Regions from separate parts of the Homo sapiens genome. Here region 2 is linked to region 1. The links come from fine-mapping of genetic effects on gene expression. Tissue or cell type: nasal epithelium. Region 1 holds a variant in brackets; the other region holds the start of a gene. All regions are shown on one strand. Distances are from middle to middle. Region 1 holds the start of LOC124902184 (a long non-coding RNA gene). Region 2 holds the start of GCNT1 (glucosaminyl (N-acetyl) transferase 1).

What was found.
Region 2: GCNT1 starts here. The variant in region 1 is fine-mapped to the expression of GCNT1 in nasal epithelium (TOPMed, PIP above 0.99).

The regions. Positions count from the first base shown.
Region 1 is chr9:76,514,402-76,528,233 of GRCh38, reverse strand. LOC124902184 (a long non-coding RNA gene) reads right to left here and starts at 12,706. Exons shown (of 2, transcript XR_007061585.1): 1 at 12,565-12,706; 2 at 11,026-11,720. The variant A/G (reference allele first, on the strand shown) is at 8,970.
Region 2 is chr9:76,450,444-76,467,638 of GRCh38, reverse strand. It overlaps GCNT1 (glucosaminyl (N-acetyl) transferase 1), which reads right to left and starts at 8,457. Exons shown (of 4, transcript NM_001490.5): 1 at 8,334-8,457; 2 at 7,462-7,579. RefSeq lists silencers at 4,187-4,236, 7,073-7,142, 8,133-8,672 and an enhancer at 7,413-7,522.

The sequences.
Region 1 (13,832 bases):
AACAATTCCAGATGGGAGGAATGAACAATTCCAGATGGGAGGAATGAACAATTCCAGATGGGAGGAATGAACAATTCCAGATGGGAGGAACGAACAACTCTGGACGTGCCACCTTTATGAACTGTAACACTCACAGCAAAGGTCTGCAGTTTCACTCCTGAGGCCAGTGAGACCACGAACCCACTGGAAGGAACGAACAACTCCAGATGCGCCGCCCACTCACTGCGAAGGTCTGCAGCTTCACTCCTGAAGTCAGCAAGACCAGCAACCCCCCAGAAGGAAGAAACTCTGGACACATCTGAACATCAGAAGGAACAAACTCGGGACACAACACTTACCGCGAGGGTCCACGGCTCCGTTCTTGAGGTCAGCGAGACCAACAACCCACCAATTCTGGACACATTTTTGCTCCAGGCACCTTCAGAGAAATGGTCAAGAAAGCAGCGTAAAGATCAACTGGAAATGAAAATTTCTGGATATGCTTTTACTTATGAAGAATATAATGGGGGGCCCAGTATAGTGGCTCATGCTTGTAATCCCAGCACTTAGGGAGGCAAAAGTGGGAGAATCACTTGAGCCCAGGAGTTACCTGGGCAGCTTAGCGAGACCTCATGTCTACGAAAATAAAAATTAAAAACTTAGCCACATGTGGTGGTCCCAGGTACTTGGGAGGCTGAGGTAGGAGGATCGCTTGAGCCTGGGAGGTCGAGGCTGTAGTGAGCTATGATTCCCACCACTACACTTAAGCCTGGGTGACAGTGAAATCCCCTCTCTCGAAAAGAATATAACAGCTATCATCACAGCCTGCGAAGTCAGTCACTTTGCCCTGAGGCATGTTCTGTGTTCTGAGGCAAGGATAGGAGGCTGACCCCTCAACCACCTACTTTTCTATTCAGCCACTGAAGCCTTCTGTGGCCTTCCCTGAGACCTGTGAAACAGTTGGGAGACCATTAGTACAGCAGTTCTTAAGCAGGCCAATTTTTTTCCATTTGGAGGCATTTCAAAATATCTAATGATCTTTTAAAAATTTTATTTAAACTGTTGTCTTTTAGTGGGCAAGGTCAAAGAATGCTAAAAGTCTTGCAAGGTAGGGATAGTTGGGCAAAAGAAAGATTTTCCTCTTACCCAAAAATATCAATAACACCACTATTGTGAGGTATCTGTGTAAGAACTGGGGAATTTGATTGAAGGATTTTTTTTTTTTTTTTTTTTTGAGACGGAGCCTTGCTCTGTCACCCAGGTTGGAGTGCACTGGTACGCTCTTGGCTCACTGCAACCTTTGCCTCCCAGGTTCAAGCGATTCTCTTGCCTCAGCCTCCGGAGTAGCTGGGATTACATGCACCTGCCACCACACGTAGCTAATTTCTGTATTTTTAGTAGAGATGGGGTTTTGCTATGATGGCCAGGCTGGTCTCAAAACTCCTGACTTCAGGTGATCCACCTGCCTTGGATCCCAGAGTGCTGGGATTATAGGCATGAGCCCCCGCACCCAGCCTAATTGAAGGAATTTCTTTCTTGCTATTGTGTTTAACTCCTGTATATGTGTTACAGGTATGGAAGGATGATATGTGATATTAGCTGATATGATTTCCTACATTCACTTTTTTGTCCCACGAAAAGGACAGAGATGCCCTCCTTCCAGGTTCCTCATGGCTCAGAAGTAGCATGAGAGAAGATTATATTGGTCTTGAGTGGTGCATGAAAGAGTCAGAAGACCTCACCAGGGATCCTAGACAAGGATAAAAGGATGTGCCTCAAAGGAATGAAGGGTGTCTGTCCTTACAGGAAATTGTGTAAGAACACAGTGAATTGATTCAAGTCAGTTTGGTCGTGCTCAACCCTTAGATTGTTTCTGTTAGAAGATAGTAGACACTAAAGAAATTTGAGGGAGTGAGATTTAGCTGTGCTTTCATAATCTCACAATCAGGTTACAGGAAAGAAATCTTAGCCCAAATCCTGTCACCCACATAGGTGTTTACTATGCAAACATTCATTAGTCACCACTAAGGAGTTGGTACTGTCCTGTTGGTGTAATGAAATTCTAGCTCTGTACTCTTTTAGGTGATCCAATCACACATTGCATGAAATGCTTACAAGCAGCACACAACAGCACTTCAGAAGCAGGAGTCTCTCTCTTCCAACTGGCATCATTCAGAAATCCTCCTATACCAACAGCTGCTTATAGGACAACTCAGGGAGCAAGCTAGATTTTAGGTCTTCCTTAATTGTTACACCCCCACCCATACAAGAGTTAGGAGTCTCTTTAAGGTATTTTTAGCCAGTCCTCATATTTTGAATACCTTTAGCATCACAAATGAGAGCTCATTTCTAAGAATCATGCTAAATAACTGCTTCTTGACAAAAGTTACTAGTTTCTCCAGTGAAATCCCTTTTCAGACATTCAGTATGTTTAATAGCAAAGTGTTAGTTTGATGAAGCCATCTCTGGGATGGAACCTTTTCTGATTTAATGTGAACTGATCATGCCTTAACTATGCATTATAAATTATCTGAAGGTTTTGGCTTCATCTAAGTAACAGATATTGGCCAGGCGTGGTGGCTCACACCTGTAATCCCAGCACTTTGGGAGGCCGAGGTAGGTGGATCACCCGAGGTCAGGAGTTCAAGACCAGCCTGGCCAACATAATGAAACCCTGTCTCTAAATAAACAAATAACAGATACAAAATATCACGATGTATATGCTGAGATCTTTTAAAATAAGTTACAGTCACTGTAACACAATGGAATCTGCATGGGTCCCAATGCTATGGGGGCCAAGTGAGATCTGCACCTGCAGATCAGTCACCACTTAAAATACTCTGGGTACTATGCAAGTGCTAAGGAAACATCTGGAGCCAAAGGCCAGTAGAGGACTGAGAGACCCGGAAGCAAGGTGACTGTCTCTTCACTCTCAGTTATTGGCAGGAATTAAGAGCTGAGTGAGGGGGAAAGGAGACTAGAAAGAAAAACCTTAGAGGAAGGGCTACTGCGAATAGAGTAGCCACTTAACCCTGAAGAATTTTTTTTAATCAATTTTTTTGGACTTGAACTATCAACAGAATTTTTAAAAAATTATTTACAGAATTAACAAAATTATTTCTTTCAGATAGGTGTGATGGTTAATACTGAGTGTCAACTTGATTGGATTGAAGGGTGCAAGGTATTGTTCCCGGGTATGTCTGTGAGGGTGATGGCAAAGGTGATTCACATTTGAGTCAGTGGACTGGGAGAGGCAGACCCACCCTCAGTCTGGGTGGGCACCATCTAATCAGCTGCCAGTGTGGCTACAATAAAGCAGGCAGGAGAAGATGGAAGAGGAGACTTGCTGAGTCTTCTGGTCTCCGTCTTTCTCCTGTGCTGGATGCTTCCTGCCCTTGAACATCAGACTCCAAGTTCTTCAGCTTTTGGACTTTTGGACTTACACCATTAGTTTGCCAGGGCCTCTCAGGCTTTTGGCCACAGACTGAAGGCTGAACTGTCGGCTTCCTTACTTTCGAGGTTTTGGGACTCGGACTGGCTTCCTTGCTCCTCAGCTTGCAGACAGTCTGTTGTGGGACTTAACCTTGCGATTGTGTGTGTCAGTTCTCCTAATAAGCTCCCCTTCATATATACATCTATTCTATTAGTTCTGTCCCTCTAGAGAACCCTAATACAAAATTCCAGCTGTGCCAAGGGACATCAAGAAAAGCAATTGTGTTTCTGCTTGCTTGAGAGACCCAGAGGGAAATTTTGCTCTGTAGGTACCAGTTTGTTGATGGCTATGAGCATGAGGAGAGTGATTCCACAGGCAGGGAATAGAACTCGGGGACACAGATGGGTCCTTATCTGTCAAATTCTTCCTCATGGAATTTATTTTGCTCTCTTTTAAAATTGCATAAGAAATTGTTATTCATGGTAGAAACATCTGAAACTCAAATGAAACGTTAAAAAAAAGGAAAGAATCCCTTGTAACCTCCTTACCCAGTGATAACAATTGTTACTGAGAGGTGACAGCGTGCTGGCAGTCCTCACAGCGCTCGCTTGCTCTTGGCGCCTCCTCTGCCTGGGCTCCCACTTTGGCGGCACTTGAGGAGCCCTTCAGCCCGTCGCTGCACTGTGGGAACCCCTTTCTGGGCTGGCCAAGGCCAGAGCCGGCTCCCTCAACTTGCAAGGAGGTGTGGAGGGAGAGGCGCAGCCGGGAACCGGGGCTGCGCGCCGTGCTTGCGGGCCAGCGCGAGTTCCGGGTGGGTAGGGTCAGCGGACCCCGCACTTGGAGGGGCCGGCCGACTCCACCGGACCCGGGCAGTAAGGGGTTTAGCACCTGGGCCAGCAGCTGATGTGCTCAATTTCTCGCTGGGCCTTAGCTGCCTTCCTGCGGGGCAGGGCTTGGGACCTGCAGCCCGCCATGCCTGAGCCTCCCCCCGCTGCCCCACCGTGTGCTCCTGTGCCGCGGGAGCCTCCCCGACAAGCACCGCCCCCTGCTCCATGGCGCCCAGTCCCATGAAACCACCCAAGGGCTGAGGAGCGCAGGCGCACGGCGCGGGACTGGCAGGCAGCTCCACCTGCAGCCCCTGTGTGGGATCCACTGGGTGAAGCCAGCTGGGCTCCTGAGTCTGGTGGGGACGTGGAGAACCTTTATGTCTCTCTCAGGGATTGTAAATACACCAATCGGCACTCTGTATCTAGCTCAAGGTTTGTAAACACACCAGTCAGCACCCTGTGTCTAGCTCAGGGTTTGTGAATGCACCAGTCGACACTCTGTATCTAGCTACTCTGGTGGTGACTTGGAGAACCTTTGTGTCTATCTCAGGGATTGTAAACACACCAATCAGCACCCTGTCAAAACAGACCACGCGGATCTACCAATCAGCAGGATGTGGGTGGGGCCAGATAAGAGAATAAAAGCAGGCTGCCCGAGCCAGCAGGGGCAATCCGCTGGGGTCTCCTTCCACACTGTGGAAGTTTTGTTCTTTCGCTCTTTGCAATAAATCTTGCTATTGCTCACTCTTTGGGTCCACACTGCCTTTATGAGCTGTAACACCGCGAAGGTCTGCAGCTTCGCTCCTGAAGCCAGCGAGACCACGAGCCTAGCGGGAGGAACAAACAACCCCAGACGGGCCGCCTTAAGAGCTGTAACACTCACCAGGAAGGTCCGCAGCTTCACTCCTGAGCCAGCGAGACCACGAACCCACCAGAAGGAAGAAACTGAACACATCGAACATCAGAAGGAACAAACTCCGGACACGCTGCCTTTAAGAACTGTAACACTCACTGCGAGGGTCCGCGGCTTCATTCTTGAAGTCAGTGAGACCAAGAACCCACCAATTCCGGACACATTACCATTTTAAAGTATAGCTTTACAGATCTGTTTTTATACATTCACATATGTGTAAATATTTCAAAACTAGGATCACACTGTATATATTCTTTTGCAGTGTGTTCTTGTTTAACTCATTGTATTGTGGACTTTTCATGTCAATAAACATTTGTCTATTCCAGTGGTTCTCAAACTTGAGGATGCATCAGAATCACTTAAAAAGCTCGATAAAGGCCCAGCGCAGTGGCTCATGCCTGTAATCCCAGCACTTTGGGAGGCTGAGGTGGGTAGATTGCTTGAGGCCAGGAGTTAGAGACCCGCCTGGCCAACATAGCACAACTCCATCTTTACTAAAAATACAAAAATTAGCTGGGTGTGGTGGTGTGCACCTGTAATCCCAGCTACTCGGGAGGCTGAGGCTTGAGAATCCTTTGAACCCTGGAGGTGGAGGCTGCAGTAAGCTCAGATCACACCACTGCAGTCCAGCTTGGAACACAGAGTGAGACTCTGTTTCAAGAGAAGAAAGAAAAAAAAAAGCACTTGATAAAGCACAGGTTGCTGGTTTCCACCTACCAAGTCTCTACTTTAGTAGTTCTAAGTTAGGGTCTGAAAATTGCATTTCAGATAAGGTGATTCTTTTCTTCTTTTTTGTTGTTGTTTCTTGAGACAAGGTCTTGTTCTGTCACCCAGGCTGGAGTGCAGTGGTGTGATCATGACTCACTGCAGACTTGACCTCCTGGGCTCAAGTGACCCTCTTGCTTCAGCCTTCTGAGTAGCTGGGACTGCAGGTGTGTGCCACCACGCCTGGCTAATTTTGTTTATTTTTTGTAGAGACAAGGTCTCATTATGTTGCTTAGGCTTGTCTCGAACTCTTGGACTAAAGCCATCTTTCCCCCTTGGCCTACCAAAGTGCTAGGATTACAGGTATGAGTGAGCCATCACCACCAGCCAAACAAGGTAATGTTGTTGCTACTGGTCGGGGGGCACACTTGGAGAAGCTTGGGTCATCTGTTAATAGATCATTAGGTAATATAATTTGTGGGTTGTCTGTTGGTTTTTTGGAGACAGTAAATGGAGACTTTGTAACAAGGGCTTGATACGCAGTGATAGGGTAATAATAAAATTGCAATTTATCATTTCTTTCATGGTAACAATTTGAGGACTGAATAAAAGGTTTTGGGACTAAAATTAGATATTCAATAAGTAATAAGTAAATAGGCCCCAGGCATAGCACTGAAAGCGCTGCCTAGTGTTCGTAAGTGCAGGAAGGCTGTGACCTGCCTTACAGAGAGAAAATGTGTGCTAGATAAGCTTTGTTCAGGCACGACTTACAGTTCAATGTGAATGAGTCAACAATCTTGTACACCTAAAAAGGAAGGGGACATTTCCCAGTCGGGTGTGACACTGCTCCAGAAAGCGCTAAAGTAACATCTATAGTGCATCTTAGATCTACGAATAAGATGGAAGAGTGGCTAAATGGGTGTATTCATGAGATGATGACAGATTAAAAAAAAAAAAAACATAGTGGACAGCATTTCTGTGAGGCTGAAAGCCAAGAAATTTATGGAAAAGTGTTAAACCCTTTGTGGCTAGTGCTGACTGGCCCACACGTTTCAAAAGGCGATGAGGCATGGAAAAATGTTAAACCTGTGGGAGGGGTAGGTTCTGCAGATCAGAATGCTGTGGAACAGTTTTTTAAATATTTGCTAAGTGTTCTATGGGAAAAGGGTTACTGGAAGAGACGATTTTCAACCCTGGTGAGACTGGCTTGTTTTACAAGGAAGTTGGAAAATGAACCTATAGAACGCAAATGGCATATCAATTGACAAAAATGTAGTGACCAGAGGTTCTCAGGAGCCTCATCTTATATTTCCCCTTGCAGCAATAGTCCAATATTCACTAATTTAGTGTTTGCTATGAGTTTATAGAACATAACTACCATGAATAATAAGAAGTGATCATACCTGGCTGGCTGTGTGGTGGCTCATGCCTGTAATCTCAGCACTTGGGAGGCTGAGGTTGGAGGACTGCATGAGCCCAGGAGTTCGAGACCAGTCTGGACAACATAGTGAGAACCTGTCTCAATTAAATATATGTGTACATGTATATATCTTTTTTAAAAAAGAATTAATCATACCTGGTTCACCCTCATAGATTTTAAAACATAAGGTAGAGCCCAGACATCTGTTTTTACCAACCCTTTTATTTGATTTTGAAGCAGTCTAGTATTTGAAAATTATTTGTAATACACTGTATCTAGTTTCCTTATATTTCCAAAAGCCTGTCATATAGTCCATAGGTATCATTGTCCTTTTTTTTTTTTTTTTGAGACGGAGTCTCACTCTGTCACCCAGGCTGGAGTGCAGTGGCATGATCTCGGCTCACTGCAACCTCCGCCTCCCAGGCTCAAGCAATTCTCCTGCCTCAGCCTCCTGAGTAGCTGGGATTACAGGCACGCACCACCACAACAGGCTAATTTTTGTATTTTTAGTAGAGATGGGGTTTCACCATGTTGGTCAGGCTGGTGTCGAACTCCTGACCTCATGATCTGCCTGCCTCAGCCTCCCAAAGTGCTGGGATTACAGGTGTGAGCCACCATGCCCAGCCAACATTATTGCTTTTTTTTCCTGAGTTATCTGATGGGGGACTCCTTGGCCTGCCTCACACAAGGATTCTTTTTAACCCCCTGTGATTGAGTAGAAAGGAAGTAGGCTGGGTGACATTTTTTCTTTTTAACACTGGTTGATTCCTAAGAGAAATCACATCTGCTTTTTGAGACATCCTACATTCACCCATCCATCTTTTCACTCATCAGATTTAAGTCCCATACGAGCAGCAATCATGAATATTTGGTTCACCAAGGTAAACCTGTACCTAGTCAGTAACTTTCACATAGTAAACACTCTGCCCAATATAAGACAGGCACTGCGATGGAAACGAAATTATTCCTATAAATCAGGGGTTCTCAAGCAGGGACGATTTTACCTTCCAAGAGACATCTCACAATGTCTGGAGGCATCTTTATCACAAGATGATGCCTTGGGGTTGGGTTGGGGTTGCCACTGGCATCTAACAGGTAGAGACCAGGGCTGCTGCCAAACATTCATAATGCACAGGACAGCCTCCACCCCCACAACAAAGAATTATCTAGCCCAAAATGTCAATAGTGCCCAGGTAGAGGGAAACATTCTTAAATGGCTATAAAAATTAGAGTAGGCAATTTCTCATCGTCTGACATTGCACTCCAGGGCAGATTCAACTGTTAAGTGACACAGCAGTACTGAATCATGTCTGTCCCCACAGCCCACCTACCACGCAAAGTTATGAGGAAAGATTCCTGGGGAAGGCTTTCCTCTCTCTTGTCCCACTGGTTTATTGTTGCCCTCCTAAGTCAAAAATGCATACTATTTTTTTTCAAGCTTTTGCACTCATACTCTTCCCTGTTTTCACTCTCCATCCCTATTTCCTTGTTTGCACTTCATGCGAAGTGGAGTCCAGCTTCCTAGGAAACAGGTGTACCCTGACCTCCCTCATGCAGTTTCTAGAAATGGCTTGGGAAAGAATGCAGCTGGAGACCCACAAAAGTGCACTGTCTCCGGCTCCTCGTTCTTTCTTCTCTTCTCCTGGTGAACAGAAGGAACTTCGACCTGCCTGAGCCCGCAGCTCTGTAACC[A/G]CACATGAGGGATCAGTCCACCCACCCTGTTATTTCAGTTGCATGCTTAGGCAGTGAGGAAAGGACATTAGATTCCTAAAGATCAAATTTCCTGAACAGAAATATTTGTGGGCAGGAAAAAAACCTGACAGGACACTTTAATTCAGGTGCGGTGTTTAGTTTTCAGTAAGGTTTTATTTCACAGGGAGAATAAAGACAAGCTGAATTCAGCCAAATTATAAAAGGTTATCAGTAAGTCCGTATTTTCCCCCTCGATTGTTTATGGTTTCTATTTGAGGAAAAAATATCTAAAATTATTTTTTTCCCTTAAGAGTGGTTAATCAAAATTAAGCAAATTAATTGACTTTATCGATTTATTAGGTTGGTGCAAAAGTAATTGTGGGTTTTGCCATTAAAAGTAGCAGCAATGGCTGGGCGCGGTGGCTCACGCCTGTAATCCCAGCACATTGAGAGGCTGAGGTGGGCAGATCACCTGAGGTAAGGAGTTCAAGACCAGCCTGGCCAACACGGTGAAACCCCATCTATACTAAAGACACAAAAATTACCCAGGCGTTGTGGCGCATGCCTGAGGCAGGAGAACCACTTGAACCCAGGAGACAGGGGTTGCAGTGAGCTGAGATGGCGCCACTGCACTCCAGCCTGGGTGACAGAGCAAGACTCCATCTCAATAAATAAATAAAAGTGGGGAGGTAATTGGGGATATTTCTATTATCCCCCAATATTAATTGGGGACAGGAAAGGTAGAGGGTATATGGGAATATGGAAATTCTCTGTACTTTTCACTTAATTTTGCTGTGAACTTAAAACTGCTCTAAAAAATAAAGTTGATTTAAAAAAAAATCACACATATGTGCACAAGTAAGTTCAATGGCCTATTTTAGATGATGGTGATTAATTCTGTCTAGGATACTGTGGAAGCCAGAGAAAAGAGTGGACATTTATGTAAGGCCGTGGGGGACACAGATGGTCAGAAAAGATCTCATAGGCTAGGCGCAGTGGCTCACACCTATAATCCCAGCACTTTGGGAGGCCGAGGCGGGTGGATCACTTGAGGTCAGGAGTTCGAGACCAGCCTGCCCAACATGGTGAAACCCTGTCTCTGCTGAAAATACAAAAATTATACAGGCGTGATGGTGGGCGCCTGTAATCCCAGCTACTCAGGAGGCTGAGGCAGGAGAATCTCTTGAACTCTGGAGGCAGAAGTTCCAGTGAGCCAAGATTGCACCACTGCACTCCAGCCTAGGTGATGGAGCGAGACTGTCTCAAAAACAAAAACAAAAACAAAAAAACCTCATGGAGGTGGTGATATCTGAGCTGAATGTTGAAAGGTGAGGGTGTTCTAGTCTGAAAGCCTGAAGAAATATGTTCTAACAGACTGCAGTGTGAATGAAGACCTTTTCCGATGGAAATGCTTAAAAAAAAAATCACTCTCCCTTAAACAATCAAATGTATTGGATGATATAAATGAACAGGCTTGGGCTCAGCTTGCTCCAGGGCTTGCAGGACAGCCTCATGAGATAGTTTGTATCTCCCCATTTCTCCTCAGTGTTGGTTAATTCTCCTGCTTCCTGTAAGAGAGTGCAACAATCCCAGCACCTTCTTACTCTCAGTTCACATTAAGTGGGGACAATGCAAACAGGCTGAAAGTGAGGGAAGAGACTGTTTCCCCAGGCTACTGTTTTATTAGATGGATGATGAGTAGATACCAGGAGTAAAAACTCCAAATGAGCACGATTCATGAAGACGTGAAACAGCATCATGTGTGGTCCAGGAATGGGTAGAGCAACCTATACAATAAAGAAGACTGGAGAGGTGGGACTGAGGCCAGATCATGGAGTGTTCTGTGTACCATTTGAAGAAATCAAGATTTTTATGTTTTAGGCAACAGGGAATCTTTGAAAAAGTTTATGCAAGAGTGTGCAATTATCAAATTTTCATTTCTGATAGAACTCTGACAGTGGGAAGGTACTGTGTGACTTGGTCAAATAACTTGTCCTCTCTAAGCTGCTTCAGTGTTTACATTTGTATAATGTGGACAAAAATAGTGCCAATACCATAGGATTATGGCGAACTTTAATGAGACAGTATTTGTAAAATGCTTAGGACAGTGCTTGGCATTTAATGAGAGCTAAATATTTGCTGCTACTCATATTGTAACTATTGTTATTATTGTTGCTGTTGCTAACGAAGTGGAAGAGTTTGAGATAGGAGGCATGGAGGTGACAGGCAAAACCAGCTACACCCACACAGTTTACGATCTTCATCAGCAGAAATTTCTTATTCCAGAAGCTCTCACCCTGGAGGTAAAATTTGCAAATAACTTCCTTTTTTTACTCCAGGAACATCTTCAGAGTTACATCAATAAAAAGCAGTTTATACTCTAAGATTGTTTGAACCCTTTGCCTCAAAATCCTTACTTTGCTGTGTCTTCTCATCTTAAACTATTTCATCATGATTATTTGCCAAGACCCCACATTGTCAGACTCACCTTAGTCAGAATCCAAAATCTCCTAAACAGTGTGATTGGGTTGTCCTCTCAGCGAAATGTTACCAAGACTCTGAAGACGGAGCTCTCTGTTACTGCAGTGAGCAATAGACTCTGCTTTGTCTGAGGACCAGATCGTTTTGGTGATATTTTCAGGAAGCTGGTATTCAAGAGCAGGCAGCTCAGAAACTGGCAATGGTCCAGGTGAGAGATGGTGAGAGATGAACAGGGCTTGATGACAAGACGGGAGCATGTGAACGGAGTCACTGTGAAGGAGAGAGGCCTTAGTAAGTGGGTGTGAGGAGACAGGAACATTCAAGGACACTGCTCGGTTTGGCAGCTTCAGTACCTGGATAGACTGTGGAAGGATTTTCCAAAGTAGAAGCTGCAAAGTTTGCTAGGTATAATTCAGGATGTGTGTTGATGTGTGATAACGGGAACCAGCTTTATTAAACTTATGCTGATTTCTAACCATCCACCAAGACCCCTTCAGAGGTAGGTGACCTGGCTGCAAATAGTTTGGGTTAGGCTTCTCAGGTTCCATAAGAGGATGTCCTCCAATGCTCTGCTCAGTTATAATTCTCTTCTTAATCAGAAATTTCGCCTGTTGGTGCCCAATACTCTAAGTGTGAGTGTATCACCTGTATGTGGCTAAGCCTATTTGTGGCTCCCCTGTTCTTTCCCTTTGCCTGTGTACAGGCACATTTCTGAATTGCTAATGCCCATAAAACATAAATTCCATTTTAAAGCACTGATGTATATTATACTGGATATTTAGGGGGAAGATAAAGATGGGATGACCAACTTATTCTGATTTTAGCATCCCAAACCCAGTATCCCAGAAACCTCCACAGTCCAGGGTAAATTGAGGTGATTGATCACCTAAGATAAAGGAGAAGGTTAAAACCACCCTTCAAATCTCCTTTCACTGGGAAGTTTATAGCAGTAAATACTGAACGAGCAACAAATATTGAGGCCAAGCATGGTGGCTCATGCCTGTAATCCCAGCACTTTGAGAGGCTGAGATGGGAGGATTGCTTGAGCCCAGGAGTTTGAGACAAACCTGGGCAACATAGTGAGACCTCCTCTGTACAAAAATTAAGAAATTACCTGGGCATGGTGGCATCTGCCTGTGGTCCCAGTTACTTGGGAGGCTGAGATGGAAGGATCACTTGAGCTCAGGAGGTTGAGGCTGCAGTGAGCCATGATCACATCACTGTGCTTCTGCCTGGGCAACAGAGCAAGACCCTGTCTTAAAAACAAACAAGCAAAAAATCAAAAAACTTACGTTAAGAAAAATGAAATATCTCAACTAAACAACCTAACTTTATACCTCAAGGAGGTAAGAGAATAATAGGCCAAGCCTCAAGTTAGCAAAGGAAGAAAATAACAAAAATTAGAGCAGGAAAAATAAAATAGAGAAAATAGAGACTATTATAGAAAAACAGTAGAAAGATCAATGAGACTAAGAGTTGGTTTTCTGAAAAGAGAAAGTCGACAAACCCTTGGCTAGACTAATTTAGGAAAAGAGAGAATTCAAGTAAAATTTTAAATTAAAGAAGAGACATTACAACTCATACCACGGAAATTCAAAAGATCATAAGAGACAACTATGAATAATTATATGCCAATAAATTAGATAACTTATAAGAAATGAACAAATTACTAGAAACATACCACCTACCAAAATTAAATTATGAAGAATAGAAAATCTCAGCAGACCAATAATGTATAAGGAGACTGAATCAGTAATCAAAAATCTCCCAAGAAAGAAAAGCCAAGGACCAGAGAGCTTCACAAATATTTAAAGAAGAATTAATATCTATTTGTCCCAAACTCTTTCAAAAAAAATTGAAAAGATAACACTTCTAAAACTCATTTTATGAGAATAGCATTGCTCAGATACTGAAGCCAGACAAGGACACTACAAAACAAGAAAACTATAGGTCAACATTGCTGATGAACATAAATGTAAAAATCCTCAACAAAATACTAGTAAACCAAATTCAACAACACGTTAAAAGGATCATACATCATGATCAAGAGGGATTTATCATGAGGATGTAAGGATGGTTCAGTGTACACACATCAATAAATGTGATATACCATATTAACAGAATGAAGGATGAAAATGATGATCTCAAGAGATGCAGAAAGAACATTTGAAAAAATTAAATATTGTTTTGTGATTTAAAAAACTCTCAATGAATTAGGTATAGAGGGAATGTACCTCAAAATAATAAAGGCCGTATATGACAAGCCCACAGCTAACATCACACTCAATGGTGCAAAGCTGAAAGTTTTTCTTCCAAGATTAGGAACAAGACAAGAATTTCCACTCTCACCACTTCTATTCAACATACTACCAGAAGACCCGG
Region 2 (17,195 bases), 62 kb after region 1:
AGGGCCACTCAACAGGCAAGTAGCTCTCAATCTGGTTTGTACACTGCAACCACCAGGGAGCTTTCAAAAAGGACCAATAACGAGTCCCCCTACCAGAGATTTGATGGAATTGATATAGAGTTTGACCTGGGTGTCAGGTTTTTTTAAAAGTTCCACAGGTGTTCCTAATGTATAGCCAACACCGAGAACCATGACATGGAACATGAACCTGCATGATGTGGAAGGGGCTTGAAAAGGTCCTTCCCCTCCAGGACTGTCACCCCTAGTGGCTTTGATGCCCATCAAAAGATCAGCTGAGGCTGGGTGAGGTGGCTCACGCCTGTAATCCCAGCACTTTGGGAGGCCAAGGCGGGTGGATCACTAGGTCAGGAGATTGAGACCATCCTGGCTAACACGGTGAAACCCCATCTCTACTAAAAATACAAAAAATTAGCTGGGCGCGGTGGCGGGTGCCTGTAGTCCCAGATACTTGGGAGGCTGAGGCAGGAGAATCGCTTGAACCTGGGAGGCGTAGGTTGCAGTGAGCTGAGATCGTGCCACTGCACTCCAGCCTGGGCAACAGAGCAAGACTCCATCTCAAAGAAAAAAAAAAAAGATCAGCTGAGCATTTACTGCCTTTAGTTAACAAGCCTGTAAGGTCAAAGGTAGGAAGCAATTTGTAGAAAAAGTGGTGCAAGGCTATTTCAGGTGTACAGGGCCAAGCTTCAAGGTAATCATCATTCATAACACTTTCCAGGGAGCCAAACACAAAGCTTGGCACTAGAAAATGCTTACTAAATGCTGGCTGAAGAAATATCTGACTGCACACACAGACACACCCCAAACTCAGCCAATGGTTTTGCCACTTCCTTCAGAAAAAGTCCTCACGATTCTGGACCCAAAATCTAAAGCATCTTTATCCATCCTCTCCCTCCGTCCTTCCATCAAAGACCAAATTCTGCACTGTGTTCTCACCCTCTCTGAAAACTGGTCCTATCATTTATTTTACCCTCCTGCATCTTTAGGCTCTTCCTCTCTACCAGAAAATTCCCAGTAGTGGCCAGACACAGTGGCTCATGCCTATAATCCCACACTTTGGGAAGCCAAGGTGGGCAGATTGCCTCAGCTCAGGAATTTGAGACCAGCCTGGACAACACAGATGGTGAGACCCGTCTCTAGAAAAAGAATACAAAAATTAGCCAGGCGTAGTGCTGTACACCCTTGGTGCTACTTGAAGGCTGAGGTGAGAGGATGGCATGAGCCCCAGAGGGTGGAGGTTGCAGTGAGCTAAGATTGTGCCACTGCACTCCAGCCTGGGCAATGGAGAGAGATCCTGTCAAAAACAAAACAAACAAAATCCCAGTAGCATTAGAGCATGTTTAAATTTCTTCCATCTCAATCTGAAACAAAACAAAACATCATAGACCCCTCATTTCCTCCCTGCCCTGCATGAATATCACACTTCTCAGTACCCTTAACAGGCCTCTCTTCCTCTACCAAATACAGTGATCAAACTCTACGGGTCCAGCCCTTTTCTTTTCTCATTCTACACCCTCTTTGGATGAGTGCTTTTTATGCAGTAATACTTACATGCAACAGCTCCCAAACATGTATCTCCACCCCAGATCTCTTCCAGGAGTAGCAACTGTCTACTCCTCATCTTTACTTGGATGTCTCACAAACAAAACACACATCCAAAAAGGCATTATCTTCCCTCCCACACCTCGTGCCAACCCGCTCCTCCTCCTGTGTTCTCAATCACCATAATGGTTCCACCATCCCATCCTACTCAGTTGTTTATGCCAGAAACTTTTGAATCATCCTTGCTACCTCCCTCTCCATCAACCATATCCAAATAATCACCACCTTCTTGCTGATTTTAACTACAAACCCAATCTCACTCAATCTCAATCCTCACCTGTCATTAAGCGTTATCCAGTGCTGCTACGCCATCACTGGGTGACTGCAAAAGCACTGTTTGTTCACATCCACCCTCCTCCTCCCCAGGGTGGCCACATGATTGCACAGGCTGTGCCTGCGTAACAAGTCTGGCTCAGGGGGCTGAAGCCTTTTGACCTGGCCTAGCTGGGACACAGTGGTGCATTTTTTCTAATTGGTCCACACAGAATAGAAGCCTTTCTTGGGTTTGCACAAAGACACCAAACGTGCCAGCAGGACCTACCTCTCTAAACTATTCTCTACACAGCAACAGCGATCATTTTACAAACTCAAATTAGGCCAGGTGCGGTGGCTCACACCTGTAATCCTAGGACTTTGGGAGGCCGAGGTGAGAGGATCACTTGAGGTCAGGAGTTCAAGACCAGCCTGGCCAATATGCTGAAACCCCGTCTCTACTAAAAATACAAAAATTATCTGGGTGTGGTGACGCACATCTAATTCCAGCTACTTGGGGCAGAGGTTGCAGTGAGCCGAGATTGCACCATTGCACTCCAGTCTGGGTGACAGAGCAAGGCTCCGTCTAAAAAAAAATAAAAAAAAAAAAACTCAAATCAGAGTCAGGCACAGCAGGGCCTATGCAGTCCCAGCTACAAGGGAGGCTGAGGCAGGAGGATCACTTGAGCCCAGGAGTTTGATGGCAGTGTGCTATGATTGCTCCTGTGAATAGCCACTGCACTCCAGCCCGAGCAACATAGCAAGACTGTCTCAAAAACAAAAAAATCTCATTGGAAACTGGAGAAAATGAACTGGAGGAATGTGAGCAACACTACTGCCTGCCCTAACAAGGAAAATTGAGAGGATATTTCACCATATCAGGGATCTGCCTAAGAACATTTCTGAGAAGAATGTAGGAAGTGCTATCTGGCCCAGTATCTGCCTTTGAGAAAATGTGAGAGAGATGAACTAAAGAAGTATATTCAATTTTTAAGTAGAATTTAGAGAAAACATGAAGGACTCAGGACTTGATGGGTTTAAAATAAAACTACTTCTAGTCAGATATGGTAGCCCATGCCTATAGTCTCAACTACTTGAGAGGCTGAAGTGGGAGGATCACTTGAGCCTAGGAGTTCAACTGAAGTGTGCTATGATCTCACCTGTGAATAGCCACTGCACTCCAACCTGGACAACAAAGTGAGACACTGTCTTCAACAAACAAAACAACCACAAATCAAAAACACTTTAGTGGCCAGGGATGGTGGCTTACACCTGTAATCCCAGCACTCTGGGAGGCCAATGTGGGCAGATCGCTTGAGCTCGGGAGTTTGAGACCAGCCTGGGCAACATGGCAAAACCCCATCTCCATTAAAAATACAAAAATTACTCAGGCATAGTGGCGTGTGCCTGTAGTCCCAGCTACTCAGGAGGCTGAGGTGGGAGGATCACCTGAGCCTGGGAGGTGGAGGTTGCAGTGAGCCAAGATGGTGCCACTGCATTCCAACCTGGGCAACAGAGTGAGACCCTGTCTGCAACAAACAAACAAACAAAAAGTGGGTTTCCACTATGCTGACATTAAAGTCCAAAATCCTAAAAATGACCCAAGACATATTTTACTCTTGATCTCAACTCTTTCAGCCTCTAAGTTTATCCCCTAATGTACTTCACTAACTCCTACTAATCCTTCAGCCTTTTTTTTATTATTATTTTTACAAAAAAAAAAAAAAACAAAAAAAGAGATGGGAGTCTCGCTATGTTGACCTGGCTGGTCTCAAAGTCCTGGCCTCAAGCGATTCTCCCATCTCAGCCTCCCAAAGTGCTAGGATTACAGGTGTGAGCCACCATACCTGCCCCCAGGCCTTATTTTAAATATCATTTTTTAAGCAGGTCTTCCCTGAACAGTCCCTCTCCCCTCAACCAGGTTAGGTCTCAAGGTCACATGCTCCCCTAACACCCTGTGCTTTCCTAAGTACCACTTAAGATTGTGATAGCCTGAGCCGGTGTGACTATGTGTTTGGCTCATAAGCTCATAAAGGCAGGGACCCTCCATCTTGTTCACAGCTGTGGCCCTGGAGCGAGCAATGCCGGGCATCTAACAGATGCTCAGTAAATAGTTGTTCAATGAATGCCTGAATAAATAGGTTGCTCCAGTACCCATGACTCTAATGAACAAACATTTGGCTACCTCTTTAGCAAACGAAAAATCAATCATGGGAGGATTTCTTAGTAACATTATTGCATTGATGACCAAATACATGCAGACTCCTCATTGGAAACAGAAGAACAATCAAGGAAGCAGAAACTCCAGGTGCCTAGTGGCAGCAGTAACATTTCACGGTTTAGATTTGCATTTGTGACCACAACCTTACTCTTAGCTATGAATAAAGAGTTTCACCAGGGCCAGCTCATGGGTGGGCAACCAACGCAGTCACACTGGGCCGTGCTTGGCTTAATGCTCTGTGGTCACCATGTTCAAATTCTTAATTTTTTTAACAAGGGGCCCCACAAATTATGTAGCCAGTCCTGAGTTTTACAAATTAGTTTGATTTCTGGAAGGGAACAGTGGATAGCTAATCCCCAGCTAAGGAGGCATCCTCCATAATCAAGGTTGTTTTCAACCTCCCTGAGCACATGTAAGTCCTAAGAAAGAGGGTTACATTTCTAGGACATGTTTTCTTCTGATATAAATTATATCATACATTATGTAGCGCTCCCTTTGAGAAAGTCGAGATTTTTCAGATTACAGAAATACACAGCAGTCTTCGTTTTATTGCTGTTAGCTAAAAAGAGGTTAATTTTTCTTAAAACTAAATTCTACTTAAAACTACCGTAGAATTCCTTTTTCATTTTCAACTTTTTAAACTTTATGAAATTTAACAAATACACTGAACGCTTGAAATTTCTTTGGAGATAGAAACTGGCAGGGCATGCTTCTCAGAATAGGAAAAAGAAAAAAAAAGAAACTGGCAGGACACATTGGCCATTCACAAAGAACACTGGTTTAGTTATCTTTATGATAAAGGTGTTTCAAGGCGTCAGATGTTTAAATTTACAAATAGCTTCTCTAGTCCTGAAGAGTTTCAAGTTAATTGTTAAGCTTATAAATGTTTAGACCATCTCAGAAACATTTAGACCATCTTAAATATAGGTTCATTTTGTTCCTCAACCAAAGATGACTTTGTTCTCCGGGGAACATTTGCCTATGTCTGGAGACATTTGGGGTCATTTAACTGCAGGGAGGGTGCACTGGCATTTAGTAGGTAGAGGCCAGAGATGCTGCTAAACATCCTGCAATGCACAGGACAGCCCCCACAACAGAATTTAACTGGCCAAAAATGGCAAAAGTGCCACAATTGAGAAAGGCTGGTCTAAACATATATGGCATTTGCCTCAGATAGGAAACGTGACAGCACTAAGCCACAAATCCAGTGACAAAGCCAAGAATACAGACAGTCTCCACAAGAAACACATATGGTTATATGAACAGTCATTTGGGAACTCCCTTTTTAAGACAGGGAGTTAGACATTTGACATACTGACCTGGAACCATGAATACATTTCTCATTAGAATAAATAAAAATAGTGACAAGAGTCCTTGGTTGGCTCTATAAAAAAAAAAAAAATACAGTATAGCTGAAATACCACACACTTCATAGAAAACAGAATTTGACAGTCAGAAGGGATCATTTCCAGTAGTAATTTCTGTTTTCTACCACTTCATTTCATGAAAAATGTACAATATCTACATCACAGTTCAGAATTTTCCATTCATCGGAGAATATAATCACCGTGTACAGTAGCAGTTTTTAAGGCAGAGTTTTGCAAACAGATGATGCATGAAACAAATTTGATTTTATTCTTTGTGGGATTTTTGTTTTGAGACGGAGCTTCACTCTGTCGTCCAGGCTTGAGTGCAGTGGCACGATCCCTGCTCATCCTAACCTCCGCCTCCCGGGTTCAAGCAATTATCCTGCCTCAGCCTCCTGAGTAGCTAGGATTACAGGTGCCCACCACCACACCTGGCTAATTTTTGAATATTTTTGTAGAGATGGGGTTTTGCCATGTTGGTCAGGCTGGTCTTGAACTCCTGACCTCAAGTGATCCACCTGCCTCAGCCTCCCAAAATGTTGGGATTACAGGTGTGAGCCACCATGCCCAGGCTCTTTGTGTGTGTTTTTTTTTTTGAGACAGACTCTCGCTCTGTCACCCAGGCTGGAGTGCAGTGGTGCAATCTCGGCTCACTGCAACCTCCGCCTCCCGGGTTCAAGCAATTCTCCGTCTCAGCCTCCCGAGTAGCTGGGATTACAGGCGCCTAGCCACCACGCCCAGCTAATTTTTGAATTTTTAGTAGAGACACCATCTTGGCCAGGCTGGTCTTGAACTCCTGACCTCGTGATCCACCCGCCTGGGCCTCCCAAAGTGCCGGGATTACAGGTGTGAGCCACTGCGCCCGGCCCTCTTTGTGTTCTAAAAAGGAAAAAATATGAGCCAATATTTAAAATCAGGCTTTACATTTTTTATTTTTAAGTAAAAGTTCTCAGCTATTCGTGGAAAAAAAAAAAAAAAAAAAAAGCTGCCTACACTGTATGGCTGAATGGGAATTCCTGCATGGATACTCGGTGGAAATGGCCAATATCCACCCAGCCTTAGCAGGTTCCTCTGCAGTCACCTGGGCCCAACCAAGCACTCTTGTGCATTACCTGTTTAGTCCATGTGGATAAAGTGGATTTTGTGATCCCAGTTTTAGGGAAAAACGTTTTTCTTACTGTTAAGCAATTCAATTACAAACGGAAAAGGAGTAACTCCTTAAAAAGTGAGTGGAAGCATTGCTATCATTAATCAAGAATGAACTATAATTAATGAAGGATAGAATCTAGTACAAACTTGGGGCCAAGGCTAAGGAGATCCTTTACAGGGCCAAGTTGAAGGACGGGCAGAGGAGGTGGCAGTGACCGTCAAACCCTCATCATGAAATGGAAAAAATATCAACCTCTCGGCCAATAAAACTTTTTAAAAGTAAATTCATAGTTTGGTATATTGTATTTTAAAATAAAGGAGTTTGCCATTTCTAAGAAATCAGTTTCCCAAAACTACCATTTTAAGGGCCCGAAAAAAATTCCTTTAAGAAAAAGCAGGTATCTACACAGTCTGAGTTTTCCTCCCTGCTAGAACTGAAATCTGTTACGAAAGCCTCCAGCAGGGGGGCCTGCCTGGAATTGCCTAAGCTCCTAGCAGGTAATTTACACTGATCTTTAAAAACTACTAAGCCCTCCTCCTCCCCTCTATAAAACAAACCGGCCTTTCAGAACAGCTCTGGAAGGGGGGCAGAATGCCAGACGAAGAGACAACTTCCAGACCACGTCTCTCACCTCCCACCCATCAAATTCAGCCCACAAAAAGCTGTGGCCGCATTCTCATCTCAAGGCACCACGGCTTTCTTTGAACACCATATATCTTCCCAATTGGCCTCTTGCCCCATTATGTGTAAAAAACCGACTCTCTTTTCTGCAGAAAGAAATAACAAGGCAAAGGGTGTACAGGGCAACGTTTATATGCATCTACAGCATGCCAGGTGCCTACAGAACCTACCTCGGCCTAGGCGGTCCGTGCCCTAGCCGGGATCTGCAGGCGCCCTCATCCACGCTGGGAGACGGGAAGAGGAGAGGGAGGCGTGACAGGCGAGGGTGCCTGTGCTGCGCAGAAAGCGCTGCCAGGAGAAAAGAAGCAGTGAGCAAGGGCTTCTTCCATTTCAAAAACCTAATAACCAAAACTTGGAGGAATCTGCCTGAGATACTTAAAAAAAAGAGGAAAGAGAAACCTAGGAGGGGGTAAAATGCTTTTAAGACGAATCACTTGTTTTCGTAATAGACCCTGCGCGCGAGTTTCCTAGACTGCCGCGAGAAGAAGGAAAGCGAGGGAGCAGGAAAGGAGAGGCTTCGGAGCCCCTAAACTAACGTCTCTTTTCTTATTAGTAATAGTTTGCTCCAGGGTGAGTCATTTATTATCCTAGCGTTGGCCTCTTTATCAGTAAAGTAGGGGTGAAAATGCATCTTAGCCGGGCTGGCGTTAGGATTCAATGAAGTTAAATGAAGTTAAGCCCCTGGCACCCATGGGATGGCAGCGAGTCTGTTCGTTCCCTGCCTATCCACGCCCGCAGCCAACCCCTCCGACATCTAAGCTACACGGACCAGGGGCAAGAGGCCAGAAAGTGACTTTCAGGGGACACGGGGCACCGGCGTCCCAGCCCCACTGAGCGGACGGAAAATGAAGGTGGAAGGAAGAGGCGCCGCTCCATTCCGGTCCCGGGCGCACCCCGGTTCTGCTTCCTCCTCCGCGGGGGAGCCCAGCCCGCCCGGGGCCACGGGGCACTGGCTGAGAGCCGGCTCCCTCCCACCCATCCTTCTCAGCCTTCCCCCACCGCCGGGCGGCCGAGCAGGGGAACACGAGGGAGAGCCGGTTACCTGGAGTGGGCGTCTGACCCCGGAGTCTCAGGAGGATGCCCAGCCGCTCCTGCTCCACCAAGCTCCCGCCCCGCGCCGCGCTCTAGGCGCTCCGGAGCTGCGCCTGCAGCCCTCACACCAGCGTGGCCCGCCCCGGGGCCGCCCCCAGAGGCCCCGCCTTTCTAGGCCCCGCCCACCACGTCCCCGCCTCGCCCACCTGCGCGAGCTCGGGGCTGGGGACTTGCTGCGGACTCGCGGTTCCCGCCTACAGGCGAGGGCGCCCTCTGGGCACTGACGTGGTCTGGGAGTAGCGCTGCGATCCTAGTGCTTCCTCGCTCCTCTTCCTCACTGTGCTCTGATTCTTAAGAGGTGTGTGAGCGGCGTCTTTTTAAACATTTTATGCCTCCCTTCCTCGAAAGCAGGAAACTCGAGAAATGCTGCCTTTTCTGATTTTAAACATGAAAATATGTTACAGAACAACAATAAAATTAAATTCCAAGGTTCTCGATATGTAAAGTTTAGAGATAACCATGTAGGTGTTTTTTTCTCTCCCCTAACGAACCTTGCTTCCTAAATTTAGCATTTAAGAACTCATTACATTCATGTGTATTTCCACATAAAAATTAAGATCAAATTAAACTGTGGAACAATCCACAGTGCTGTGGAAAGTAGGAAAAAACCTTCCCCGCCCTTATAGCACAGATCTTTGTGTCAGTTATAAAAGTTGACACAGTTCTCTTTGTAACAAGGGGAATATTGTGTCTGTGTCTTCTTTCGTTGGATTTTTAGCTCCTAGAAAACAGAACGAGGTCTTATTTGTTTCCATGTTGTTTAAAAAAAATTCTGGCCGGGCGCGGTGGCTCACGCCTGTAATCCCAGCACTTTGGGAGGCCGAGGCGGGCGGATCACCAGGTCAGGAGATCGAGACCATCCTGGCTAACATGGTGAAACCGCGTCTCTACTAAATATACAAAAAATTAGCCAGGCGTGGTGGCGGGCGCCTGTAGTCCCAGCTACTCGGGAGGCTGAGTCAGGAGAATGGCGTGAACCCGGGAGGCGGAGCTTGCAGTGAGCCGAGATCGTGTCACTGCACTCCAGCCTGGGCAACAGAGCGAGACTCCATCTCAAAAAAAAAAAAAAAAAAAAAAAAATCCAACTCAGAGGCCATTAGACTGTGATATGTTTGACACTTGCCTGATTTGTCAACAAAAATTAACATAAGATGATGGTATAGAGGAAGAAAGACTTCCCCTCTACTCTCTGAGGCTTGGATAACTAAGTCTATGAAATAAATTGACTGCAGGTAGATTAACAAGAGAAAAAGTACACAGATTTCGTGTAGGGGGTATCACAGAAAAGAAAAACTAATATTCCCTCTGCCTCCCCCAACAAAAACTGAGATTTTAGGAGCTTGTGTATCCTCTTCATTGGGGAGGGACAATTTAGGGGAGAGGAAATGATTTTGGGAAAAACTCCTGAACTCCTTCAATGGCTAGCTTTGTTTAATATCTCATGAAATTTTTCATGAGCAATTCAAGCATAATTGTTAAGAGCAAGTAGATTAGGTAAATGTAAATGGAATAAAAGTTTATAAACTTTTAAAAATAATTTGTTTTATAAAATTTGTCTACTTAAAAATAGTTTTAAAAATCTTTTTTGGTGACTTGAAATTTCGAACATATTAAATTAAGTAATAGATATTCATTAAATGTCTGAGTCATTTGTAAGTTAAAATACTGACATGTTAATTGCTAAACATAAGTTTAAAGTATAGCCGGGGCTGGGCACAGTGGCTCATGCCTGTAATTCCAGCACTTTGGGAGGCCGAGGTGGGTGGATCACCTGAAGTCAGGAGTTTGAGTCCAGCCTGGCCAACATACCAAAACCCCGTCTCTACTAAAAATACAAAAATTAGCCAGCTGCGGTGGCGTGTGCCTGCAGTCCCAGCTACTCAGGAGGCTGAGGCATGAGAATCGCTTGAACCCGGGAGGTGGAGGTTGCAGTGAGCTGAGATCGTGCCACTGCACTCTGGCCTGCGTGACAAAGCAAGGCTCCATCTCAAAAATAAATAAATTAATTAATTAAAAATAAAATATAGCTGGCTGTTTGCAATGGCTCACGCTTGTAATTCCAACACTTTAGGAAGCCGAGGTACAAGTATCACTTGAGCCTGGGAGTTTGAGATCAGCCTGGGCAGCATAGCCAGACCTCACCTCTACAAAATAAAAATAGATAAATTAACCAGGGGTGGTGGCCAAGCAATAGATTTATGAATTAACTTTTGGAATATATCTTGTTTGTCAGTTGGATACTGCCTGTATACCATAAGTGTAATCCATTTTGTTTGTGTATGTGACAGGGTCTCACTCTGTTACTCAGGCTGGAGCACAGTGGCGCAATCACAGCTCACTGCAGCCTCAACTTACCCCTGCTCAGGTGATTCTCTCACCTCAACCTCCCAAGTAGCTGGGACTACAGGTGTGTGCCACCATGCCCGGTAATTTTTTGGTATTTTTTGTAGAGATAGGGTTTCACCATGTTGCCCAGGCTGGGTTTGAACTCCCACGCTCAAGCGATCCACCCACCTCAGTCTCCCATAATGCTGGGATTACAGGTGTGAGCCACCTTGCCCAGCCCACTTATTTTTAATGCCTGCAATAACATACACCCATAAATCTATACAAGTAGTTTAGAAGGTATTTCTGGAATGCTTAGGGGTGTATCAGTCAGGGCCCAGTCAGAAAACAGAAATCACAGCAATTACTTTTACAGAGAATTTAAGGTCATGAAGATTGGCAAGGCAAAAACATTGTAGTAACAGAGAGAGAGTAACTGCAGGAAGCAGCTGCCATGCACAGAGCTGGGGAGAGGGGAAGTGTTGGGGTTATCAGAACCTAACAGCCAGGAGAGGGCCCCTGGTTGGCTGGGAGTCAGACCTCAAAGGAGGGGGCGGTACCCAGCTGGTGCTTTTATCTCTGAAGGTAAATATTGAGGCTGGATGGGAGAGGGTGGATTAAAACAAACAAACAAATCTAAGAAACTGGAACCAGCTGTTGCTGCAGCCAGGGAGAAGAGCCATTGCTTGGTAACATGGACAGGAACAGTAAGCAGCTATAAAGTAGCAAGTCCCTCTCCTCAAGCACCCCTTATAAGCAAAACCTTATAGGAAATGTGATTTGCTAAGTCCCAGCCCTGGCTCACAAAGCAGAAGATAGAAGCTTGAGTTTGAACTCTAAGACATACTTCAATAACCAGCACAAGGAGCAAACTCATGATCACAAACACCCAACTCTCCTAATATTATAGATGTGGGAAAGTGTCTGATAAACACAGCTGTCATAGTAATGATTAATACAATAGCAATATATTCTTAAAATGTCATAATAAAACTATAGTTACAAGTACAATCAAATAACGGGACAGAGGCAGGGCATGGTGGCTTATGCCTGTAATCCCAGCACTTCGGGAGGCCGAGGTGGGCAGATCACTTGAGGTAAGGAGTTCGAGTTCCAGCCTAGCCAACATGGCGAAACCCCGTCTCTACTAAAAATATAAAAATTAGCTGGGTGCGGTGGCACATGCCTGTAATCCTAGCTACTGGGGAGGCTGAGGCACGAGAATCGGTTGAATCTGGGAGGCGGAGGTTCCAGTGAGCCAAGATCATGCCACTGCACTCCAGCCTGGGTGACAGAGCAAGATTCCATCTCAAAAATAGATAAATAAATAAGAATAAATTAAAAAAAAAGTAAGGGGATGGTGTTGCTTGACCTATACTTTGTGTTACTGGAGACCAGTGAACATCCTCTCCCGGCTGTATTTTCTGAGAAACCACTAACTACATAGAACCACCTTTCCCCAAATGACTTAGGTAATCATCATGGATAACATCCTTTCACACTTACAACAAGGCCATAGACATGCGCTCCAAATTTCCATTCTCATCTTATAAATGGTTAGCTGAACCATTTGCCCCTACTGATCAATCTGGGCAAATACCTTACTTGATCAAACTTCAATGAGGCTTTTCTCCTTCCATCAGGTCTTTGCCCTTTAATCTAGTCTCAGCCTAAACCAGCATTGGAATTTGGAATAAGCCCCTTAATGTCCTGTATTAGTCTGCTTTCACATTGCTATAAAGACATTTCTGAGACTGGATGATTTATAAAGAAAAGAGGTTTAAAGGCTGGGTGCGGTGGCTCACGCCTGTAATCTCAGCACTCTGGGAGGCTGAGGCGGGCGAATCACAAGGTTAGGAGTTCGAGACCAGCCTGACCAACATGGTGAAACTCTGTCTCTACTAAAAATACAAAAATTATCCAGGCGTGGTGGTGCACGCCTGTAATCCCAGCTACTCAGGAGGCTGAGGCAGGAGAGTCGCTTGAACCCGGGAGGCGGAGGTTGCAGTGAGCTGAGATCATGCCACTGCACTCCAGCCTGGCGACAGAGTGAGACTCTGTCTAACAAAAAAAAAAAAAAAAAAAAAAGAAAAGAAAAGAGGTTTAATTGACTCACAGTTTTGCCTGGCTGGGGGGGCCTCAGGAAACTTTTAATCATGACAGCAGGGGAAGAGGCACATCTTACACGGCGGCAGATGAGAGAGAGCAAGCAAGAGCAGGGAAAACAGCCTTATAAGACCATCAGATCTCCTGAGAACTCACTCACTATCACAAAAACAACACGGGGGAAACTGCCCCCACGATCCAATCACCTCCACCAAGCCCCTCCCTCACCACGTGGGGATTATGGGGATTACAATTCAAGATGAGATTTGGGTGGGGTTTGGGTGGGAACACAGCCAAACCATATCACATCCCCTCCCAAGAAGCCCTTTTCCAGCTGACCACAAAGAAACTCTGTCCTGATCAGTTGCCTGATTGGGCCACCTGCTCATCCCACTCCCTGATACTGGTTCTTTTTTTTTTTTTTTTTTTTTTTTTTTTCTTTTCTGAGACAGAGTTTCGCTCTTGTTGCCCAGGCTGGAGTACAATGGTGGTGCAATCTCAGCTCACTGCAACCTCCGCCTCCCGGGTTCAAGCGATTCTTCTGCCTCAGCCTCCCAAGTAGCTGGGATTACAGGCATGCACCAACCATGCCCAGCTAATTTTGTATTTTTAGACGAGTTTTCACCATGTTGGTCAGGCTGGTCTCAAACTCCTGACCTCAGGTGATCCTCCCACCTTGGCCTCTCAGAGTGCTGGGATTACAGGCATGAGCCACCGCACTCAGCCGATACTGGTTCTTTTTAACATTGTTTACTACTACCAAAAAAAGAAAAACCCTTTTCTGCCTGACCTTTCAAAAGCTTGCAGATCTTATGGTTGAAGCATTCTATTAGAATGCCGTCCCTCCCCTATTGCGACATTCTCTTTTTCTATTGCAATAATCCTTCTAAATAAAGTCTCTCCTTACCTAGATCTGGATTTGGTTTTTATTTGACAGTTCTCATTGCTGTGATCCAGCTCAAGACTGGAACTCACCTAGGGACCTCCACCAGCCCCACCCAGGTAAAGGTGCCATGTTCAGGACTTGAGGACTCTTGGGTGAGTTCAAGTCTTGAACCAGTGCTCTGGCCATCTTGTCTGTTGAAGAACAGTAAGAGGTTACTTTGATTGTTTCAGGCAAAGAGATGCTTTGGCCCTCCTGTGAGACTTCTGTGTTTCCTCAGCTCCTCGACCTGGGGATTGTTCAAGGGAATTAATCAAGTGGGAGTTTTTCTTGGCTCCTTTAAAGACTTTTCTTTGGGCTGACTATCCACTAATGCCATGGGTAACTCTCACTCTATCAGATGCCCTCCTCTTCCCCCACTGAGTACCTGCTATTATGGCACTAATTCAGTTTAATAGCCTCAAAAATGGCACAATTTACTAAAGGTAACCTAGAACCTCAAAGGCCTCTTTGGGAAACATGAGATCTCCTTAAACCAGCTCATCTAAGACTTCTCCCTTCCCATCATCCTCATCCCTCCTTTTTACCACTTTAAACCTTCTCTTTTGTTGCCTTGAATGATTTAATCTGTCCACCTCCTTCACCCATCTACCCATTCCTACACACCTTTTCCTACCCACTCCAGCTCCTCAACTCATGGTCACTCAAGATTAGGCCTCCCTTCTGTTCTGACCACCTTCTCTTCACAGCACTGGTGAAGCAGGGATCTCCTGTGCTAAACAGGAGATGGCTGAACAGATGACACCCAATACTGGGCAGATGAGATTGGCTACAGTTTTTTCAGTTACATACTCACAGCCTAAGGGGTGAGGAGGTTATTGCATGCCAGGCAGAGCCACATGGGAATTGCATTTGAAAGCAGACTGAAGCAGCAGGGGCTGTGTGAGGCAGGCTTTGTAGTAATGGCACAAGAGTGAGGTAACCTTTTATTCCACGGGAGGATGTAATTGGCTTGTTCAAATAGTTCTGTGGGCTGGCAGGTAGGTAAAGCTCCTTAGATTGAAGATTAAGTAGGGTACAGCTGGTCTGGCTGAAGGGGAAACTAGCTGGGTAGGGAGCCCTTCCCACTTCGGGGGTGATATGGTTTCGATCAGTGTCCCTGCCCAAATCTCATATCGAATTGTAGTCCCCAGTTGTGGAAGTGGGGCCTGATGGAGTGTGATTGAATCCTGGAGGCGGTTTCTAATGGTTTAGCACCATCCCTTTGGTGCTGTCTTGTCATGGAGTTCTCATGAGATCTGGTTGTTTAAAAGTATGTGGCACCTCCTCCCTGCCTCTCCTCCCCCTGCTCCAGCCGTGTAAGATGTACCTGCTTCCCCTTCAACTTGCATCATGATTGTAAGTTTCCTGAGGCCTCCCAAGCCATGCTTTCTGTGCAGCGTACAGAACTGTGAGCCAATTAAACCTCTTTTCTTTATAAATTACCCAGTCTCAGGTAGTTCTTTATAGCGATACAAGAATGGTCTAATATAAGTACCTAGATCATTTCTAAGTAAGATAGACTAGTGGAGCATAATTTAAAGCTTATGTAAATTTTTTTTAGTACAGAGAGGCTAAATATATTTTGGTCTGCTAATGATGTGTTCATTCTTGCCACACTGAAAAGTTGTACAGGCCAGGTGCAGTGGTTCACACCTGTAATCCCAGCACTTTGGGAGGCCAAGGTGGGTGGATCACCTGAGGTCAGGAGTTTGAGATCAACCTGACCAACATGGTGAAACCCCATCTGTACTAAAAATACAAAAATTAGCTGGATGTGGTGGCAGGGGCCTGTAATCCCAGTTACTCGGGAGGCTGAGGCAGGAGAATCACTTGAAGCCAGGAGGTGGAGGTTGCAGTAAGCCGAGATCACACCATTGCACTCCAGCCTGGGCGACAGAGAGAGACTCCATCTCAAAACAACAACAACAACAACAAAAAAAAAAAAAAAAAAGAAAGAAAGAAAAGAAAAGAAAAGTTGTACTATAAGGAAGTGTATGGCTATAAAAAAGTCACAAGATATATAACCTTAAGCTTGACTAGTCTGCTACAATATGCTGGTATATGACAGACAGCTAATTATCTACTTCATAGTTTTCTCTGTAGGTATATTACTTTGCTAGGTCTGTCAACAAAGTACCATAGACTGGTACTTTAAACAACAGAATTTTGTTTTCTCACAATTCTGGAGGCTGGAAGTCCAAAATTGAGTGTCAGCAGAGTTGGGCTTTTTCTGAGGCCTCTCTCCTTGGCTTGTAGATGCCAAGATTAATATTTCTTTGGCCTTTTATATTAAAACTTTTAATTAACATTTATCTTTTTAATGGTAGGCATTCCTCATTTTAAGATACCTGACCCTTAAACAACTGATTTTTGCCACCACCTTTCAACAGATGCTTCAGCTGGTTTTGTGGGAACAACACCAACCAGAGTCCCCAGGAGACCGTTTCTTAGTCCCTGACTCACCCCATGTAGGAGGCTTAGGATTGCATCTGAATTGCTCAGTGGTGAATAATATTCTTTTATCATTAACAAAAGGGAGGTCAACAGTGTTGATCTTTGCCAGAGCCTTGTTTTTCTGAAAAATAGCACTGGCTAAAGAGCTCTCCTCATCCTTTTATGATAGCCACCCATCCTCTTCTTGCAATAATCCTTTTGAATAAAGTCTCCCCTTGCCTAAATCCAGATTTATTTTGACAAATGCTACAAAATTAGTTTTGAATTGTTTTAGAAATTTAATCAAATTACATTGAAAAGAACATGAGGAAGACATAAAAGAGTAAGGTACTACTTTCAAAGCATGGAGAAAGCAAATTCAATCATAAATGTACTGTCCAGGAAAAAAAGAAAGTGTGGCTCCTAAGCATGCAAATTCCAGGTAGAGTAAAGCCTGAAATATGTTTCTAAAACCCATACATGTAAGTTCTTTAATGTTTTTAAAAAGAAACAGGTTGATCCCTTTTAAGAGCAGGCAGCATTTCTCAGAATGGCAACAAAGCTAAAATCACACACAAAATAGTTTGATATAGTTAATACATTAAAGTGTTAAATGTATGCATAACAAAATATATCATAAACAAAGTTAAAAGTCAACAAACTAGAAAATATATGCAATAGTATGTAAGCAAAAATTAATTTTTCAAATAAAGGGGTGTTTACGTAAAAATATGCACCAGGTGAAAAATGGGCAAAGGGCATGATAAGATACTTCACTAAAGAAGAAATCCACATAAAAAGATGCTCAATTTCAATAGGAATTGAAGAAAAGCAAATTAAAACTACAAATCACTTTTTACCTATCAGATTGGCAAAGTTGAAAAAGATTGATAAACATAATATAGATGAAGGTGTAGGAATACAGACTCCTGTGCTGCTCTCTGTTGTAGAGATTTCTACAAACTTTCTAGAAGGCATTTGGACAACATGGATACTTATGGACAACTATTCATCTAGGAATTT